Linked DNA regions of Homo sapiens: region 2 is linked to region 1. Evidence: fine-mapped expression QTL. A gene starts in region 1. The other region holds a variant in brackets. All regions are shown on one strand. Distances are from middle to middle. Region 1 holds the start of FGR (FGR proto-oncogene, Src family tyrosine kinase). Region 2 overlaps AHDC1 (AT-hook DNA binding motif containing 1).

What was found.
Region 2: its variant is fine-mapped to the expression of FGR in whole blood (TOPMed, PIP 0.99).

Annotation. Positions count from the first base shown.
Region 1 is chr1:27,630,355-27,639,590 of GRCh38, reverse strand. FGR (FGR proto-oncogene, Src family tyrosine kinase) reads left to right here and starts at 4,406. Exons shown (of 13, transcript NM_005248.3): 1 at 4,406-4,526. RefSeq lists enhancers at 2,223-2,282, 6,911-6,960, 7,361-7,500, 7,631-7,680, 7,189-7,689 and a silencer at 5,281-5,330.
Region 2 is chr1:27,593,101-27,602,336 of GRCh38, reverse strand. All of the region lies in intron 3 of AHDC1 (AT-hook DNA binding motif containing 1), which reads left to right. Among named protein-coding and RNA genes, the nearest start is that of AHDC1, 6.4 kb to the left of the region's middle. RefSeq lists enhancers at 1,532-2,487, 2,488-3,445, 3,446-4,401, 5,490-6,015, 6,016-6,541 and 5 more. The variant C/T (reference allele first, on the strand shown) is at 4,171.

The DNA.
Region 1 (9,236 bases):
AAAAAGAAGGTAATGGTTAGATTCCTGCAGGCCTGGGTTTTCCAGGCAGGTACACTGGAGGGAGAGGGAGGGAGAGGGAGGCCGGACAGTGCCAGGTCTTTGCAACGAATGACCATAAGGACTGACAGCAGAATCTAGGCTGGTTGAAAGCAGGAGTGAGAAGAGGAGGAGAGTGATGGCTAGCTGGGAAATGGATGAGAGAGGTCTCATTGGGCTTGCTGGGCTTTGATTTTTGATTTTGGTATCAGTTTTTAGAATTGTTTTATTTATTTATTTAGAGACAGGGTCTTGCTCTGTCACCCAGCCTAGAGTGCAGTGGTACAACCATGGCTCACTGCAGCCTCGAACTCCTGGGCTGCCCAGGCTGGTCTCGAACTCCTGGCTTCAAGTGATCCTCCTGTCTCAGCCTCCCAAAGTTCTGGGATTACAGGTGTGAGCCACCATACCTGACTTAGAATTGTTTTCAAGGAGCTTGTGAATACATGGGCTGAAAGGATAGGAAACTGTGGTCAGAGAGTTGAGGTTTAATTGAATGAATGAATGAATGAATGAATGATAGTGAACACTTATGTGGTATTTACTATGTGCCAAACACTCCTCTAACAGCTCACTGATTTCTCTCAAGACTTCTGTGAGGTGAGGTCTACTAAATTTCCATTTTACATATGAGGAAACTGAGGTACAGAAAGGTGAAATAACTTGGGCAGGGCGCGGTGGCCCACACCTATAATCCCAGCACTTTGGGAGGCCAAGGCAGGTGGATCAGTTGAGGTCAGGAGTTTGAGACCAGCCTGGCCAACAGAGCGAAACCCTGTCTCTACTAAAAATACAAAAATTAGCTGGGTGTGGTGGCTCACGCCTGTAATCCCAGACACTCAAGAGGCTGAGGCAGGAGAATCGCTTGAACCTGGGAGTTACAGTGAGCCAAGATCACATCACTGCACTCCAGCCTGGGAGACAGAGCAAGACTCTGTCTAAAAAAAAAAAAAAAAAAAAAAGGTGAAATAACTTGTCCAAGGTCAGAGTTGGTCTGCAAACCAGGCAGCCTGGGCCCAGAGTCTGTGTTCCTAATCAAGGTTATTCTGAAAGGATGAATGAGGGCATAGAATCCACTTTGCTCGTCCTAAGAAGTGCCAGCTGTCTCCTGACCTCAGATTGGGTCAGAGCCCTAATCTGGTTTAGAGAGGTCCAGAGACAAAAAACAATGAACACAGAAATATATAATTCCAGATTGTGATAGCCATAGAGGAGACAAACTGGATGCTGAGACCGAGAATAAGGAGACCTTCTTAGATGTGGCAGTCAGGGGAGGCTTCCCTGAGGAGACGGCACTTCAATTGAAGAATAAAAAGGAAGCAGTACTGTGAAGAGCAAGAAGAAGAGCATCCTAGGAAGAGGGAACACCATGTAAAAAGACTGTGAGACAAAAATTCAGTGTATTCTAGGAACTGAAAAAGATCCAAATGTGGGTAAAGGGAAAGATGGCTAAAGCTGGGACTGGAGAGGAGGCAGGGGCCAAGCACACAGGGCCTCAGAGGACAAGACAAAGCTGCTGGATTTTATTATTCTTTATTATTATGGTATCGTATGTATTGTATTTTTATTTTTCCAAGCAAAATGAAAGGTAAGGCACTGGGAGATTTTAAGCAAGGGACTAATGTGGCCCAACACATATTTTAAAAAGTAGAAGCAATTTTTTTTTTTGAGACGGAGTCTTGCTTTGTCGCCCAGGCTGAAGTCCAGTGCCGTGATCTCCGCTCACTGCAACCTCCGCCTCCTGGGTTCAAACGATTCTCCTGCCTCAGCCTCCTGAGTAGCTGGGATTACAGGCACCGGCACCACACCCAGCTAATTTTGGTATTTTTAGTAGAGGCGGGGCTTCACCAAATTGGCCAGGCTGGTCTCGATCTCCTGACCTCAAGTGATTCGCCCGCCTCAGCCTCCCAAAACAATGGGATTACAGGCGTCAGCCACCGAGCCCGGCCTGAGAAGCAATGTTGTCATTTTGTTCTTCCATTCATTTGCTTATTCAGTCATCAATTCTTGAATTTCTTCATTCATTCTTTCTTACCTTCCATTATTTAGTTTTTCACTGGGCTTTCCTTTGTTCATCTGTTAATTCCTTTGTCCTTTGGTTGATTCACGTGTTCCTATACACAGAAAGCCTGCTACTGTGTGCTGGGCCTTGTGTGGGTACTGGAGGCATCTACAAGAGCCAGACCCCTGCCCTTGAGGAAAACATATCCCACACACCCATCCCCCAGGAACCAGTGGTGCCCCAGGCAGAAGATGCTGAGGTTCTGCTGGGGGTGTGGAGTGGGTAGAGGCAGCAATCAGGGAAGGCCTCTAGAGCAGATGCTTGTGAGTCAGACCTTGAAGGATGACAGAGCGAGCATGATAGATTGGGGGGATCCCCCAAGAGCAGGGACCAGTCTCTCATCTCTGTGTTCCCTAAGGCTGGCACCTAAGACACAATTATAAACGTTTGCTTGTTTGCTAATTGAACATGTGGGCCGATGGCCAGGCAGGGAGCATTTGATGGCGGAGGTGATGCTGCCCGGCTAGGGTGAAGCCACTCTTCCAGAGACCCTGCACTGCCACTGGCTCCTCTGTCTTCCTCCTCATCCCTCCTCCCATTTCCTAAGAGAAAAGCATTCTTATCTCCATCCCACCACTCTGTTACCCCAGGCACATTGGGCCACACTTGAGCATGTGTACGCATGCACACACACATCCCCACATGCCCCTGCCCATACAAAGAAACACACTTGCCTGCACACCATGGCCTAGTTGTTGATTCCAAAAGCAAAGTCATCATGTCATTGCTTTCTCTCTCTCTCTCTCTCTCACACACACACACACACACACACACTTCTGTGTTTACGCACACTCTCCCTGCCTCTCACCACATCCCAACAGACACATCCTTCTCCACCAAACAGCCCTCCCCACCACACCTCTTCCTCTCCTGGACAGGAGGGATATTCCGGGTTCTTGCTTTAAGGCTGAAGTAACAGTGGTGGGAGTGGGGACTGAACCCCAGATTGAGGAGGGGTCAGGGATCCCTATCAGACAGAGAGACTGGAACTGATAGAGGATGCTACCGTTTCTCTTTTTGTTTTTAAAAATCTTTTTCCACATGTTCTAAGATACTCAGTTTTTCTTCCTTTTTTTTTTTTTTTTTTTTTTTCTTGAGACGGAGTCTCGCTCTGTCGCCCAGGCTGGAGTGCAGTGGCGCCATCTCGGCTCACTGCAAGCTCCGCCTCCCGGGTTCACACCATTCTCCTGCCTCAGCCTCCTGAGTAGCTGAGACTACAGGCGCCCGCCACCACGCCCGGCTAATTTTTTGATTTTTAGTAGAGATGGGCTTTCACTGTGTTAGCCAGGACGGTCTTGATCTCCTAACATCGTGATCCACCCGCCTCGGCCTCCCAAAGTGCTGGGATTACAGGCGTGAGCCGCTGCACCCGGCCTTTTCTTTCTTTTTTTTAAAAAAAGTCATTTTCTGCAACAAAACCCACATTCTTTTTTTGTGTTTTTTTTTTTTAAGGCAGGGTCTTGCTCTGTCACCCAAGGTAGAGTGCAGTAGCTCAATCACAGCTCACTGCAGCCTCGACCTGCCTGACTCGAGGGATCCTTCCACCTCTGCCTCTGCAGTAGCTGGGACCACAGGTGCACACCACCACACCGAGCTAACTTAAGAAAAATTTTTTTTGGTAGAGATGGTGTCTCCCTATGCTGCCTAGGCTGGTCTGGAATTCCTGGGCTCAAGCAATCCTCCCACCCAACCTCCCAAAGTGCTGGGATTACAGGCTGAGCCACTGCCCCCAGCCAGTTACTCAGTTTTTCTAAAACTTGGGTGCCTGGGGGAGGCTGACACCCTTCCCACTCCTCTGAAAGGCAGTTTCCTAAGGGAAGGGTCTTCTGCTGCTCACCACCCTTAACAGCCCTGTGTCCCCAGTGCTCAGCCCCTGAGGAAGGGAAGGCGTGCTGACAGGGTCCATGTGATCCATGTCCAGTGGCTCTGGTGACAGCAGTCTGAAGTCAACTGGCTGTGAGAACTCGAGTAAGGCCAGTCCCGATCTGGTCCTCAGTGATGGAGAAAAGCCCCTCTTAACCTCCAATTCAATGATCCTAAAAGAGCAGGTGCTTCGGGGGTGCTGAAACTGCGCTTTTGGAGGGGGCTTTTGGGAAGGCCGGGCTGGGGACTCAGGTCTGGAGGGTGACAGAGCCGACCTCCCGTAAACCAGGGAGGAGGAAGGTGGGGGCGGGTGGGCCTAGGATCTGGGGGCGCCTCCTCGCTGCGGGGAGCTGGCTTGGGGCTAGGGCGTGACTGTCTCCCTGCCACCATCACCGCCCGCCGGCCGTGACTGCAATAAGAGAAGTCCGAGGCGGCTTCCTCCTCCCTGCCCAGCAGGGGCGGCGGTCAGAGGCGGGCAGCACCCCAGTTCTCCCCGCACGCCGGCACTCGCGGCTGCTGGAGCCCCGGCTGGCTCACCCCGGGGCCGGGCAGAATTGGGCTCCAGGTAAGCGACAGCGTCGGGTGGGGACTGGGCAGGTCAAGCAGTGCCCTCCCCCTCGAGGCTCTGGAGAGAGGACTGGGGGTACACGGGAAGAGAAGCCTGAACCTGGGGGTCGGGGGACACATGAGCAAGGTGACAGCCAAAGGGACCCCAGCCCGAAAAGGCCTAAGGAGGAAAACGGGCGACCTGAAAAGCAAGGCTGATAAACCTGGAGGAGAGGGCGGAGGGGAGCACGGGGGAAGCCGACCAAAGGGACCCCCAAAAAGGTCTAGTGGGTAAAATGGAGGGGACTGATAAGAGTTTAGGAAGGGGGCTGAGGTGGGGGAGAAGGATTAAGGGGAATCCCCAGGACGGTCTGGGGGAGAAACTGAAGGGATCGTGAGAGTGGGACTTTGGGGAGAAGCCGACGGGTCTGATGGGTCCAGGAGAGGGGAAATGGGTGGGGGTGCTGGAGGGAACAGGAGAGGGAGCTGGCGGGAAGGGGGTTGAGGAGAACGACTTCTGGAGGACGGAGAACCTGGGGTGCAATTGCGGGTCCAGGAAGTTCCCCTCTTCCGAGCCGGCCGAAGTCGGGGTGAAGCCCACAGCCCGCAGGGTAACGTTAGCGGCCGCGACCGCGGCCCCGCGACCCTCTCGGCCCGCCCTTGCGGTAGGTTCCGGGCTGCAGGGGACTCCTGCCGGGCGCGCGAGGCGTGGGTCCCCGCTTCCTGGGGAAGTCCCCGCCCTCGGCAGGGACAGGCCTCTCCGGGCGCCCCCTCCGCGCCCGCGGCGGTCTCGGCCCGCGCTCCCCGCTGGATCCGGGAATTGCTGCCGCCCCGACGGAAATCCTGCCTTTGACCGCGAGTGCCCGCAGGGGCTGCCTCCAAGGCAACGAGAGGGCGGGCCGCGCTGGGCCGCCGCGGGGCTCCGGGTGGGCGCAGCCCCCTTTGCTCTCCGCCTTCGCCCCCTTTTGGAATCCTCGGTCTGGTGGGTGGGGGGTGGGCTTCCCGACCGAGGTAGGAGGCGATGCCGCTGTGTTCAGGGATCCTGGGGTGGAGGATCTGCTGTTTGAGAGACCTGGGTTCTTAGCAAGACTGGGCCCTTAATTGCTGTGTGACTGTGGGCAAGTTACAGGGCTTCTCTGGGCCTCACTTTCCTCATCTGAACTATGGTGAGAAATGATCCTTGTGTCCACTCTTCCCCCACGAGAATCAGGTGCAGAAAGCAGTTTTTGCTGAGTGTCCTGAAGGGTTAAGGGCTATCCCTGACTCAGCGAGCCTCCCCTTCACCTTCTCAAAAACATGCAGAGGAGGCCAGCCTGGGCAGCACAGGGAGACCCCCGTCCTGTCTCTACAAAAAAATATAGTTAGCCAGAAGGCTGGAAGTGGTGGCACCTGCTGTAGTCCCAGCTACTCCAGAGGCTGAGGCCGGAGGATCGCTGGAGCCCACGAGTTCAAGGCTGCAGTGAGAGCTCCTGGATGAGAGAGTGAGATTTTGTCTGTAAACAACAACAACAACAAAAAGCATGGAGGGGGACCAGACTGCCCGGCTCTCACTGACAGGGCCTCCAGGGACCAGCACACAGTTGGCGTCTAAATAGTTTATGGCTCTGATGAGAGCCCATACTGGGGAGGTCAGCAGAGTTAAAATCTGTCTCACACCCTCTCTGGTGCTGCATCCAGTTGGCCGCCCCTCGGGTGTGTACTCTCAGGGGCCCTGATGTCCTTGGCATCCTTCCGACTGTGGTGATGATGGGAGAGCAGGACCCTGTTCCCACTTCACAGATGGGAAGATGGAGGTTTGGGAGTTGGCAACCTGCAGGGCCAACAGTAGGGACCAGAATTCCAGGACATCTCGTCTCTGATGTAGCCTGAGCTGAGGCCTGAATCCTTACCTCATCCCTACCAAGTTTCATGTACCCTCCGGGGAGGAGGGTGTGGGGTTTAGGGGCTTCATGACTACTTCCTGTTCCAGTGAGTAGGTGCTCTCACACCCTCCTCCAGTGAGGGTGTGAGTGTTTGTATGTTTTGGGCTCTGAGTGAATGAGCATGAACCCTTGAGCATATGAGTGGATGTTTGGGTGATCTCTGCAGCCACCTGGGGCTGATGTGGCAAAGGAAGTGGCCAGACCTCAGGAGGCTGGGTAGGGAACCCCAGAGCTGGGGAAGTAGGGGCCAGGGCTCTTCCCACGCAGAGCAGACTGGGCTGACCTAAGGTGGGAAAAGGCAGGATGTCCCCCTCACCGCCCCACTCCCCTGAGGGACCAGGGAGGGGGCTTCCTGTCTGGCCACACTGTGAAATCTAGACTCCCATCCCTTGGCTGCCCCTGGACCCCCGCCCCCCGCCGCCATGGCTTCCATCTCCTGAAAATCCTGAGTCCCAGGCCAGATGGCATCTAAAGAGCTGTGTTTTAGAGGCTGGTGGGTGGTTTTCAGCAACAGGTGGAAAACCACTTTTACCCACAAGAAGTGGAAAAAACTGCTAATGGCCTCGGGACCACATGGAGGGTAAAGGCCACCCCCGATCCTGCACACACCTGGCCTCACCACGGTGGTGGTGGAGTCAGACAGGGTTGGGTGGGTATGTCTTCTTCAGGAGGCAGTTTCGAGGCCTCAAGAAAGGATGGTGTGAGATGAAAGGGGGTTAATGAAGGCAGGGCACGGTGGCTCACGCCTGTAATCCCAGCACTTTAGGAGGCCGAGGTGGGTGGATCACCTGAGGTCAGAAGTTCAAGAACAGCCTGGCCAACATGACTAAACCCCATCTCTACTAAAAATACAAAAATTTAGCTGGGCATGGTGGCAGACGCCTGTAATCCCAGCTACTCAGGAGGCTGAGGCAGGAGAATTGCTTGAACCCGGGAGGCAGAGGTTGCAGTGAGCCGAGATCGAACCATCGCATTCCAGCCTTGGCGACAGAATGAGACACTGTTTCAAAAAAAAAAAAAAGAAGAAGAAGAAGAAGAAGAACAAAGAAAGAAAGAAAGGGAGTTAATGAGCAGTGGGGGCCTCAGCAAAGGCACTGGCATTCAGCCAGGTGGAGGGTCTCGGTGAGAGGACTGAGGGTGAGGGATGGAAGCCCGCCCGGTCTGAGGGATAGGGCCTAGTGAGAGATGCGGCACAGTGGGATGGGAGTCACCTGCAGACCTCAGCCTTGCTCCCTGACCCTCCAGCCCTGGCCTGCCCCCGGCCAGCCCAGAGCCTGGAGGAGAAGCCGGAACTCTTGCAGGATGGTGGTTTCCTGCCCCTGCCCAAAGTCCCGGTTCCCTTTTGATGAAATCCCCCAGGCGGCTGGGCCAGCTCAGCCCTCTCACCTCACCCTGGGAACTTCTCTTTCTTCTCAGCCCTGCCCAGTTCTGTACCCTCTGGTCCCACACCGTCACTGCCACGGAGGACCTTCCTCAAGGGAAAGGAGGGAAGTGAAAGTTCACTGGGCACTTACTGTATGTCTGATGCTTTCAGTGATGTGACCCCATTTGATGCTGAGAAGCAACCCCAGGAGGTGGACATTTGTATTCTTATTTTATAGGCAAAGATGCTGCCGCTCAGGGAGATGAACTGACTTGCCCAATGCCTTAAGCTAGTTGTCAGGCAGGCTAGAATTTGAGCCTAAATCTGCCTCTAGATCCCACAGATACTTGGTGAGGGTTGCGGGGGCAGGACATCCTGTGTCTACATCAAAGAACTGGCATAGCTTTGGGAAGTGTGGGCCTCGAAAAAGGATGGGTGGACCTGGGGTTCCTATGTCCAGCAGTAGGGGTGAGTGGGAGGCAGGGTCCCTCCCTGCTGGGTGACCAGCTGCCATATGACAGGGGTGGTGTGTTCGACCGGAAGTATGACATTCACTAGTTAGGAACAGCATGATCTCCTGCTCAGGCTTTGGAGAACACAGCAGTGGGGGAGGGAACAGAACTCTGGACTTGAATTAATAGTCCTGACTTTGAATCCCTTGTCTGGCTGTGTGATCCTGGGAAAGTAACTTCCCCCTATGCAAAAGAGAAGGTGGAGTGGTAAATGGTCCCTGGGGGCCATTCTGGTTTTGGTTATTGGTCACACTTGGCCACTGCACATCGGGCAAGAGCCACATGTCATGAAGCCCTCACAACAACTACTCAGAAGGTGCAGATGCAACAACTAAGGCTCAGAGGCTTATGTCAAAGATCCAAGGTCATAGAGCTACTGAAGAATGGAGCTGGGGAGGGCCACAGGGCAGATGTTGAAGTGAGGAGCACTGCGGTCCAGGGTTGGACCTCAGTTTGATACTTGTAACCTGATTTTGACCCTGATGGGGATCTCGGAGGCGACTCCTGTAAACCAGATGTTCAAGAGACATATTTATAAACAGAACCAAGTGCCCAGAATGATGCTGTGGCTACTCTCTGAGCTGCCCCCTTTCTGGTATTAGCAGGCAGCGAAGTTCAGTGCTGAGAAAAGAGAGACCTGGCTTCTTCAGATTCAGCGACTGCCTGAGAAAATCTGGGCAGATATGGCTCTCTCTCTCTCTCTCCTGCGCCCCTCCCTCCCCCCACCTGCGCCCTGCCTGCTGTATCAAGGATTTAGAGCATGAGGCACAGGGCTGAGAACACTAGGTGCTCCTTAAGAGACACACGTTATTGCAGGGGTGTCCAATCTTTTGGCTTCCCTGGGCCGCATTGGAAGAAGAAAAATTGTCTTGAGCCACACATAAAATACACTAACACTAATGATAGCTGATGAGCTTTAAAAAATTGCAAAA
Region 2 (9,236 bases), 37 kb after region 1:
TGGCCGGAGGCGGGAGCTGGGGCTGTCCCTGAGGCGGGCAGCGGGCACAGAGCGGGAGGAGGGAGAGAAGCGGGGGCGGGAATTCTCTACCGCAGACCCTGGGGGCCAGGGCCAGATGTGGAGGGGTGGGGAGTCTCCCCTCCCTCCCAGCTTGGGGGCCCTGGGGCTGGGCTGGGAGGGGCTGAGCCTGGTGCCCTCGGTTCTGCACCAGTGCCTGACTGGCAGGGCCAGCTGAATTTGGGCCCAGGCGTCACCCTGGGAGGCAGGGCCGGACTGTACCAGCCTGGTCCCTGAGCACAAGGAGGGACCCTTGGGGGGCCTGTGCCTGTCTGGCTGGGCAGGCGTTTCCCGCCGGACCAGTTGGTGTCAGGCGGGACTTGGCCCCAGCTCCCTGGGCAGAGCTCAGGGTGTGAGGACAAGCTTTGCCTCCGGGTCAGGGTGGCCACATTTTGTCCGCTGCTGCTGTCGCCGCCGGCTGGGCGGGGGCATGTGCCCGGGCCTGGGCAGAGTCCTGCCAGGGGCATTTGGGGTGTTTCTATTGTTGGCTTGTTCCTGTTCTGTGTGGCTGTGTGAGCTGGGGCTGTAAGTGAAAGATTACCAGTCTGTCCCCCAACCTGGGGTGGGGGGGTAGGAAGGCTGGGTTGTGGGGGGACCCCCCAGGTGGCATGTGCATGCTGCTTGCCATCTCCCTCCTTTGAGCAGATGTATATTTATTTTTATAGTAATGGAAAATCAAACTGGATAGTAAGTTGAATTCATTTTTTTCTCCTGCTGTGTCAATAGTTGGAGTAATCCCCAGAGACTGGTGAACTTCTGGCCCCAGAGCTCCCACTCTTCAGGGGTTGCAAAGACCAGTAAGGGCATAAGCTTTGGGGGACCAGTGGCTACCAGCCCAAACCAGTGAGTTGTCCTTCTTCATCTGGCTTTGGGGCAGATGCCCAGGTGGGCAGGCATTGCCCCCTCCCCAGGAATCACCCACAAGCCCAAGGTGTAGTCTGGCCTTTCTAGTCTGGTCAGTGCCTAACTGTGCCCAAGCCCTCAGGAACGTTCCCCTGGTGGGCGCTCTCCTCCGCCTGGGCTCCCAGCCCACGTGCCGATATTTATTTTCTGTAGTAAAATCCATTTTTAATGCCGTTACTTTTGAAATAATATAGAGAGAAACAAATGTGATGTGTTTAAGTTGCCCTCTGTGAGTTTTTAATGTGATCTATGGCTGAGGTAGTGATGGAAGGAGCTGTTGGGCTTGGAGAAATTTGGTGTCATAAAGAAAAAGAGCTTGCTGTTTATTATTGTTGCTGGGCTGGGGGGTCTGGAACAGGGTCGTGGGGGCAGGGAGCCCCTACCACCCTCAGGCGCTGTGGGACAGCATAGCTTCTCAGTTTCAATGCGTGAGGGTTCTGGGGTTATTTTGCATTGCTCCCCAGCCCTTGATGGGGCCTTTGGGGAAGGGGTTTGGGAGCTGGGGGACTTTGTTACCCCCACTGCATGGGCTTAGATCTGGGCTGGGAGGCTTCTGGAACCCCCTGCTGAGCTAAGTGGAGGTGTACAGTAGGGAAGTTGGACTTGGATTCAAAAGGTTAAAAGATGGGGTCTCCACCTGATTGCTGTGGTTGTGCTGGAGGCTTGAGGGGCAGACTGCCCCTGGCAGAAGACATTTGGGTAGGGGGAGCTGTTCTGGACTGGCAGAGCCCCAGAGGGACATTGTTGTTCTCCAATCAGCCTGGAGCACTGACTTTGAACCACTCCCACCTCTATGCTTCTGTTCCCCATTGGACAGGGGCTTCCTCCAGGCAAACCTGATCTCCCTCATTTCCCCCTTCCCCTCTTCTGTCCCACCCCCAGGTCAATTTCAATTTTTTTTGTTTTTTTTTTTTGGTTTGTAGAACACAGAGCTCTGTGTCTCATGCCAGCCACCCAAGACCAGGGGGTGCCATGCCTGTGTACCAGATGCCCAGGCCCTTCTGGTCTGGCTTGGTGAGGTCAAGCAGACTCACTATTATGGGATGGAGCCCAGCTCTGTCTCTGGGTCCCCTGGGTCTCTTGGGACAGAGTGGGGAGGCGGAAGCCAGGATGGAGTGGAGCTGGGGACTATGGGAGGAAGCAAGGGTAACATTGTTGCTAATGCCTGCAGATGGGCCCCCCCCAGGGAGGGGGGCGGGGGAGCGACCCACAACCACATGCATGGTGAAGAGAGAGAAAGATGGAGACCAAAGCCAGTGATGAGAGTGAAAGAGAAAACAGGCAAGAAAATCTGGAATTACAGCCCCTGGAGGTGGGGGCCGGGGACCAAGAAGGCCTAGGAATATACCACTCCCCTCCCTGGAGCCAGAGAGGAGGCAGCCCTGAGGTCCTCTCACCCAAGATCAGATTCTGGGGTTGTTTTTGGAGGAGAGACAAGCAGATGTTTGGGAAGAGGGAGGAGGACAGGTGGGAGAGAGAGAGAGACTCTCACAGGAGGAGGGAGAATGGGGAGACAGATTCCAGGGTTTTCAACAAATGTTTCAGGTCCCAGGGTAGCATCTCCCTTCTGCCCTCCCCAAATGCCTGGAACAGAGCTGAGCTTTTCTTGGGACCCGGGGGGGCGTGGCCTGTGGCAGGTACTGCACCCTACAGGTTGTCAGGTGCTCTGTGCCAAAAGACACCCAGGTTATAAAAGCGGGAAACATTAGGGTCCCAGAGGTGCCAGGAGCATCATCCAGTTGGACGCCCCCCACTTGTTTGACGAGAGAAAGCCAAGTCTAGGGAGAGGAGCCACTTGCTCAGGGTCACAGATACCTTTGGCAAGACCAGGCTGGGACCTGGGCTGTTTGCACTCCACCTCACTGTAGTTAGAGAATTGGAACAGCTGCAGGGGGCCTCCTGGGAGTGGAGGGGGCCGGAGCCTGGGGAGAGAAGCAGGCAGGCACCCTTGTGGCCAGAGCCCCCCCAGGGGAGGGGGAGGCGCCGCTGCTGCCGGGAGAGAGAGGGAGGGAGGCGAGAGAGGAGGGGAAACAGTGAGTCAGGCTTCCAAGAGCTGAGGATGAGAGAGCCAGAGCTGGGAGGGAGAGGGCAGGGAGGGCTGCTCAGAAGGGAGGAGAGGGAGGGGGCCCAACCAGGGGCAAGGAGAGCTCGAGAGGGAGGGAGCCAGCCCCTGGCCCTGGCCCTGGCCCTGGCCCTGTGGTAGGGCTGTGTGGAGGGTGTAGCCAATATGGACTTTACCCATGGTAGGTCAGGAAGGAGCCTGATTCTGCCCCTGCAGCATCTCTTTCTTCTTTCCTCATTTATGATCCTACCCCAGGGTCTCAGGAGGGATGACTGTGTCCTCCCATCCCTTCCTCTTGGGCCTCAGTTTCCCCATCCATTGTGGGATTTGGACTGTGAGCTATTGGAGAGGGAGTGGGGGACAGGGACAGAGTAGCCAGGGAGAATGTTAAGGGATGCTGTCTGAAGCTGCTGGCTTTGTGACGGGGGCGCTGTCACCAGTGCAAGGTAGGGTGCTGGTCTCTGCGTTCATGTCATGACGGTGGATGCTGGTGTTGGGGGGCTTGGGCAGGCGGTGAGCACTGGGATGCACTGTATATATTTGTGTGTGAGGTGCTAGATTCAGGATGGCCAGTGCCTAGACAGGGCCAGGGTCACTACATGGCCAAAACCAGCCTCCACTGTTGTGGGGGTGACACTGGTGTGATCCCCCCACGTCCCTATGGGTAGATGGAGGTGGGAATGGCCCCAGTGCAGTTGGCAAGAACAACCCCTCATGCCTGGAACTGGGACCAGAGCAGGAGGGGTCCCCAGGGACTGCCTGGAAAGGAGGAGGGAAGGAGCCCCCCTCCAGCCCAGCTGACAGGAAGCCCTGGCTCCCAGCCCCTCCTTCGCCCAAGGCCTGGCCTCTCCTGGCCCCTCCCTCCTGGATCCCAGCATCTCTTCCATTGGCCAGGGGATGAGGAAGGTGGGCATCAAGGATCCCTCTCCTGCAGGGCCTGGCTCCGGGGGCAATGGTGAAGTGAGAGTAAAGTGAGGCCCTGCCTCCCTCCAGCCCCCTTCCAGCCCCCTCCACCACACACACAAACCCAACTGCAATGAGGCCCTGTTTTCTCTCCTCTTCTGCTCTGGGGTCCTTGGCCTGGGAGCCCAGGGGAGGGGCTGCTTCTGCAGCTGGCTGGCCCCGAACTCCCAATTCAGCCCAGCTGC[C/T]ACTGAAGCTTCCAGAAGCTGCAGCTCTGCACCCCCTCCCCACCCCCTGAGCCAGGAGAGGCCTTGCTGACCTGGGGGAGGGTGCCTTGGGGAGCGAGTGGGCACCCTTGGAAGGACTAACACAGACAGCCAGACAGATGGGTGGTGAAACAGATGGACAGAGACACCCACACACAGACAGACGGAGAGAGACGGACAGATGGACTGGGACAGGGAGAGACGGACAGACAGAGGTGCTGGCAGAGAGAGGAGGAGGCAGAAAAATGGAAGACAGAGACTTAGAGAAAAGAAAGGAGACAGAGTGACTGAGATGGAGAAGGAGAGAGATGGGGAGGCTGAGAGACAGGAAGAGATAAAGAAAGGGGGAAACCCAGACAGACAGAGAGAGGGAGGGAGAGGGAGGGAGAAGACTGCAGGCTGCAAACCACAAACAGGGATTTGATGAGAATCTGGAAGGTGTTTTCTCCCTCTTCCCTCCCCAAACCCCCAGGCCAGCCAAGTCTCCATTCCTTCCACCCCCGGCTCAGTTTCCAGCTGCTAAAGAGGTCAGGGAGAAAGAGCAAGAGAGAGAAGCCGCCCAGAGCCCCTTGCTCCCTGCTCCTCTTTTCATAGGGGGAGGGGGTTGCTGAGAGGCCTGCAGCCCTGACCCCTGCACCAGATGCACATGTGCACCTCTCTTGTCTTGGGAAACACCCCCTCACATTCACCCGGGGGATGCCCCTCGTATAAACGCAGCCCCCACGGTCACACCTGTCTACACAGGCCCTGCGTCTCTCTCTCTCTCTCTCTCACACACACACTCTCACACTGTCACACACACACACACACACAAATTTGTGACATGTAAATCTCCACCCTCACACTCATTCTGCATCTCACGAACATAGCTGGTGAACACGCACCTGTGCTTCCTTCCCTGTACAGGTGTTGACTCACAGGCCCTGTCATGGGACACCCTCCTACATACAGTGGCAGTCACACCAGAGCACACAGAACCTCCCCCTGCCACCTGCCCCCCACCCCCATACTCTAACCCGGCTGGCAAGGTGGGGAGGCAGAAGGTCCTCTCAGTCGGTGAGAGCCCTTCTGGAAAGCTTCAGGGCCTGACCTGGACACAGAGAAATGCCCAGTGGCTTGGGTAGTGGGGAGCTGTCTCAAAGGTGGTGAGGCATATGTGTATAAACATGTGCTTGCATGTGCAGGTAGAAGGGATGGCGAGTGTCCTCATGGAGTGTGAGAGAGACTGGGTGTATGTGAGATAGGGTACGGGTGTGACAGGGAGCTCCAAGGTGTGTGGAGTGTGTGGGTGTGTGTGTGAGAGTGACTTGTCAGGTATGTATGTGTGGATGCACGTTTATGTGATAGGTGTGTGTGTAAGATGGGTGTGTGTAACTGTGGGTTTTGCAGGGTGGGGTATGTGTGATGGGGGTACATATATGAAGGTTTAAGGGCATGGGGCAAACTGCATGTGTGAGCGTGCAGTGGCAGGCATGCATGTGGGAAGGTGTATGAGTGCGTGTGAGTGTAGGGACTATGCAGATATGAGGGTGTAGTTCAGGTGTGAGGCTGGGAGCCTGTTGCCTGGATTGGAGCAGTGTTTTCCAAGGCCTGAGTGCTACCTGAACAGGAACATCCAGCACAAGCACGTGGGAAGGGGCCCCCGGCCTGGAAGTTGGGCACTGACCCACACAGATGCACAAGGACAGACATACCCGCCCCTGTCCTCCCTCTTCCTCTCTTCTGGCGTCAGTGGTTTTTAAAGGAGCCTCCGTGAGGACTGTTTGCTGTGCAGTTCCCCCACCCCCAGCCTGTGTCTCTTCAAACGCAGTGCTGCCCTCCAGGCAGCTTTGTGGAGGCTCCTGCCTCGACCATCTGAAGGCAGATGGGTGGGCTTGGATCCGCTGCTGCCCCCCAGGGAGCGAGGAGGCAGCTCTGCTCCTTGGGCCTGGGCACAGGCTGAGACAGATGGACTGCCTGTCTCAACACCCCCGCACAGGCACCCCATACCATAGGGGTTCTAGCGGGTAGCCCCCAGTTAGGCCCCGGAGCAAAGGCCAGGATGCTGCCCTTCATTCTCCCAGAGGGGCATCCCCCCTAACACACACAAACCCTGCAGCCCCATCACCTCTCTGGGGTCCAGGGACTCAGTTACAGCTCCCAACACCTTCTAAATAGACAACTGCCCCACATACACACTCACAGCTCTAACACCTCTAAAACACAACTGCTCCACCTACAACACCCAGCCCACACACTTCCACACACACACTCTACATACAGATACCCCCCGACATCCAGCTACCTCACATGCACATACCCCCAAACACACAACCACCACATGCTTACCCACAACCTGCAACACCTCCCTGACACCAGGAACCTGGTTACAGCCCTCATACCTGTGCATGCACGGACGATAGCCTGTGGCACATCTCTGATATCAGAGACCCATTCTTCCCTTCCCACGTATGGAGGGACCTCAGGTCTCTAACGCCTCCCCAGACCCTTGCAGGTACCCAATTAAAATCCCAATAACCTTTCCAGAGACACTCCCCAGCTCCTCCCCAAAACCACAGTGCATCCTCCACCAACCACAACACCTTTCCAGGCACATGTTCACAGCCCTAGTACTTAACCAAAACCCACATTTTTATGACCCCCCAATACATCCCTAAACACCCCAACACACACACAATCACACACACACACACACACAGCTATCACACCCTCAGCATATCAACCCCCTATCCAACCCCAACACTGCCAGATACACCCAGGACCCAGCTACAGCCCTGCTACCTTCCCACTGACTCATACCCTCAAAGCCCTGACACCTCCCCAGACACACACACTCTGCCCACAGCCCCCAACGTTTCTCCCAGCTATAGCTCAGCACTTCCCCAAACACCGGTATCATCCCCTATACCTTTCCAAACATACAGCCTCCCCCTACAACACACATACACTCACTGCTTCAAACACCCACTCAAACAAGAACACCCTCTGTAGCCACAACATTTGCCTCAAACACACAGACATGGCTTCGGTTCTAGTATATCTCTAACAGATCAGGCCCCGAAGCTTCTAATACCTCCTGAAACTTGTGCACACTGCCTCCTGGATCCCGGCACCTCCTCGACAGGCAGTCCTAATGGCCCGGCCCCACCGCTTCCCAGACAGTCTCAGCTCCGGTACTTTTCCTCAGCCACCTAAGGGCCCAGGGACACCCCTACACCTCTCCAAACACCCCGATACCACACCTGTACACAAAGACAGCCTCAGCTAGTCACAACCCTGCACCCATTCTGTGCTCCGCCTGCACCCCACGGCACCCTGTCACATACCCCGCCTAATCCTTCTGCAGCCCTCACTCCCACCGTTGGCACATTCCAGCACACCCTCTCCCCCACCTTGTTCCCCTAGACAGCCTCAGCCTGTCACACACATTGCTCACTCTTGTGTGCTCTCGCTCTCTCTCTCTCTGCTGCCCAGGCCTCCCGCTCTTCCCAGAGCCTCCTCTGCCTGGGGAGGCATCTCCACCCCTTCACCGCCCCAGGCCTTTCATTCCTGGACAGTGAGGCTGGACATCTGGTTCAAAGCTGCCCCACCCAAGACCCTGTGCTCTGGGCACCCTGGCCTGGGCTTAAAGGTTTGGGGCCTCTTTGGGGTGGGGGCAGAGCCCCTTGGCACCTGGTCATCCTGGTCTTTCAGCCAGGAACTCTCAGTACCCAGCCCTGCCCTGGCTCTGGCATGTATGTGGGAGAGAGGGACAGGGGGAGTTGCCCCCAGCCCACACTTTTTCAAGTGCTTGCCAAATCACTGCCTCCCTCCCCCAACCCCTTGGCTCACCTGAGAGGGACATGGGGCCTGGGGCTTCAGGGAGAGGGATGGGGAAGGTGCTGGATTGACATACTACCCCCCACCCCCAAATCCAGGCTGCGGGGCTTGGTCTCCCTGGGAGTCAGTTCCGACAGTGAAGGTTACTTTACTAGATGCATGATTTTAAACGGAATCTCCACCATCTGTTCCACCCCCTAATTACAGATGCACAGAATCCGCCTCAGAGGGCAGCATGAGGGGAGTGATTTAGAGGCTGAGCTGCTTCTGCCTGCATTAGGACTGGGGAGATAGGGGGGCTCTGGGTATTGCTCACAGCCCCCAAATCCCTTCTCTTTCCTAGAGGTCCCTCGTGCCTCCTCTCTTGCTGAGGGAAGGCTCACAGAAGGGCTCCACTGATCCCCAAGACCCTAAAGAAGAAGCAACTGCAGTGCTGTGGGAAGGGTCCCCAAGACATCGCCTGTGTCCCAGCCCAGCAAGTCCTGGGATGCAGGCTCCATTAGGGCCTTAAAAAATTCAGTGAATCGATCTCCTGCCTGCCTCTTGTGCCCTGGGGAGCCGCAGGCACTGGCTTAGCCCAGCTGTCTGCCCACCCTGGGGGGATAGCAGGGATTGGTGAGATAGGGAGGGGTTCAGAGCAGAGGTGGGGCAGCCAGGTTCTGGCAGCAAAGCCCATGGGCAGGCATGCCAAGACCCACCGGGGGTGTTTGCACATATGTGCCCATCCGCCCTGGCACAGCTGGCATGCCTGACCCCAGCTGGAGCCGTGGCTGTGGGACTGGGGCAGCACCAAGGGCCAGAGGGAATGGGCCAGGGCCTGGGTCTTAGGGTTCTGAGGGACACACGGCTACGCCCTGAGAATGGGTCCATCTTTGCCCATGGACACCAGGGACCTGGGTCCCAGCCTGCCTGGGGGTAGTGGTGGCGGCAGCAGTGGGCACACTGCGGTAGACTCTGGGGCATTCACTGCAGGGAGAGAGGGAGAGAGGTTGGGCTGGAGGAATTTTAAAGATTGCTGCAGGCAGGAGGGTCTCTGGAACCCTGTGGAGCGGGCAGTCATGCAGAAGTAATCCTATCGCTGCCTGCCTGGAGGAGTGGAGGGGGAGGGGAGGGACGGAGCTGCTCCCCCTTCCCCACCTCAGCCCCTGCCCCAGCCAGCCCTGGAGGGAGCCCGGGACCCTAGGGGCCTTCCCTGAGGAGACACCGTGTCTACTCCGTTCCACCGAGGC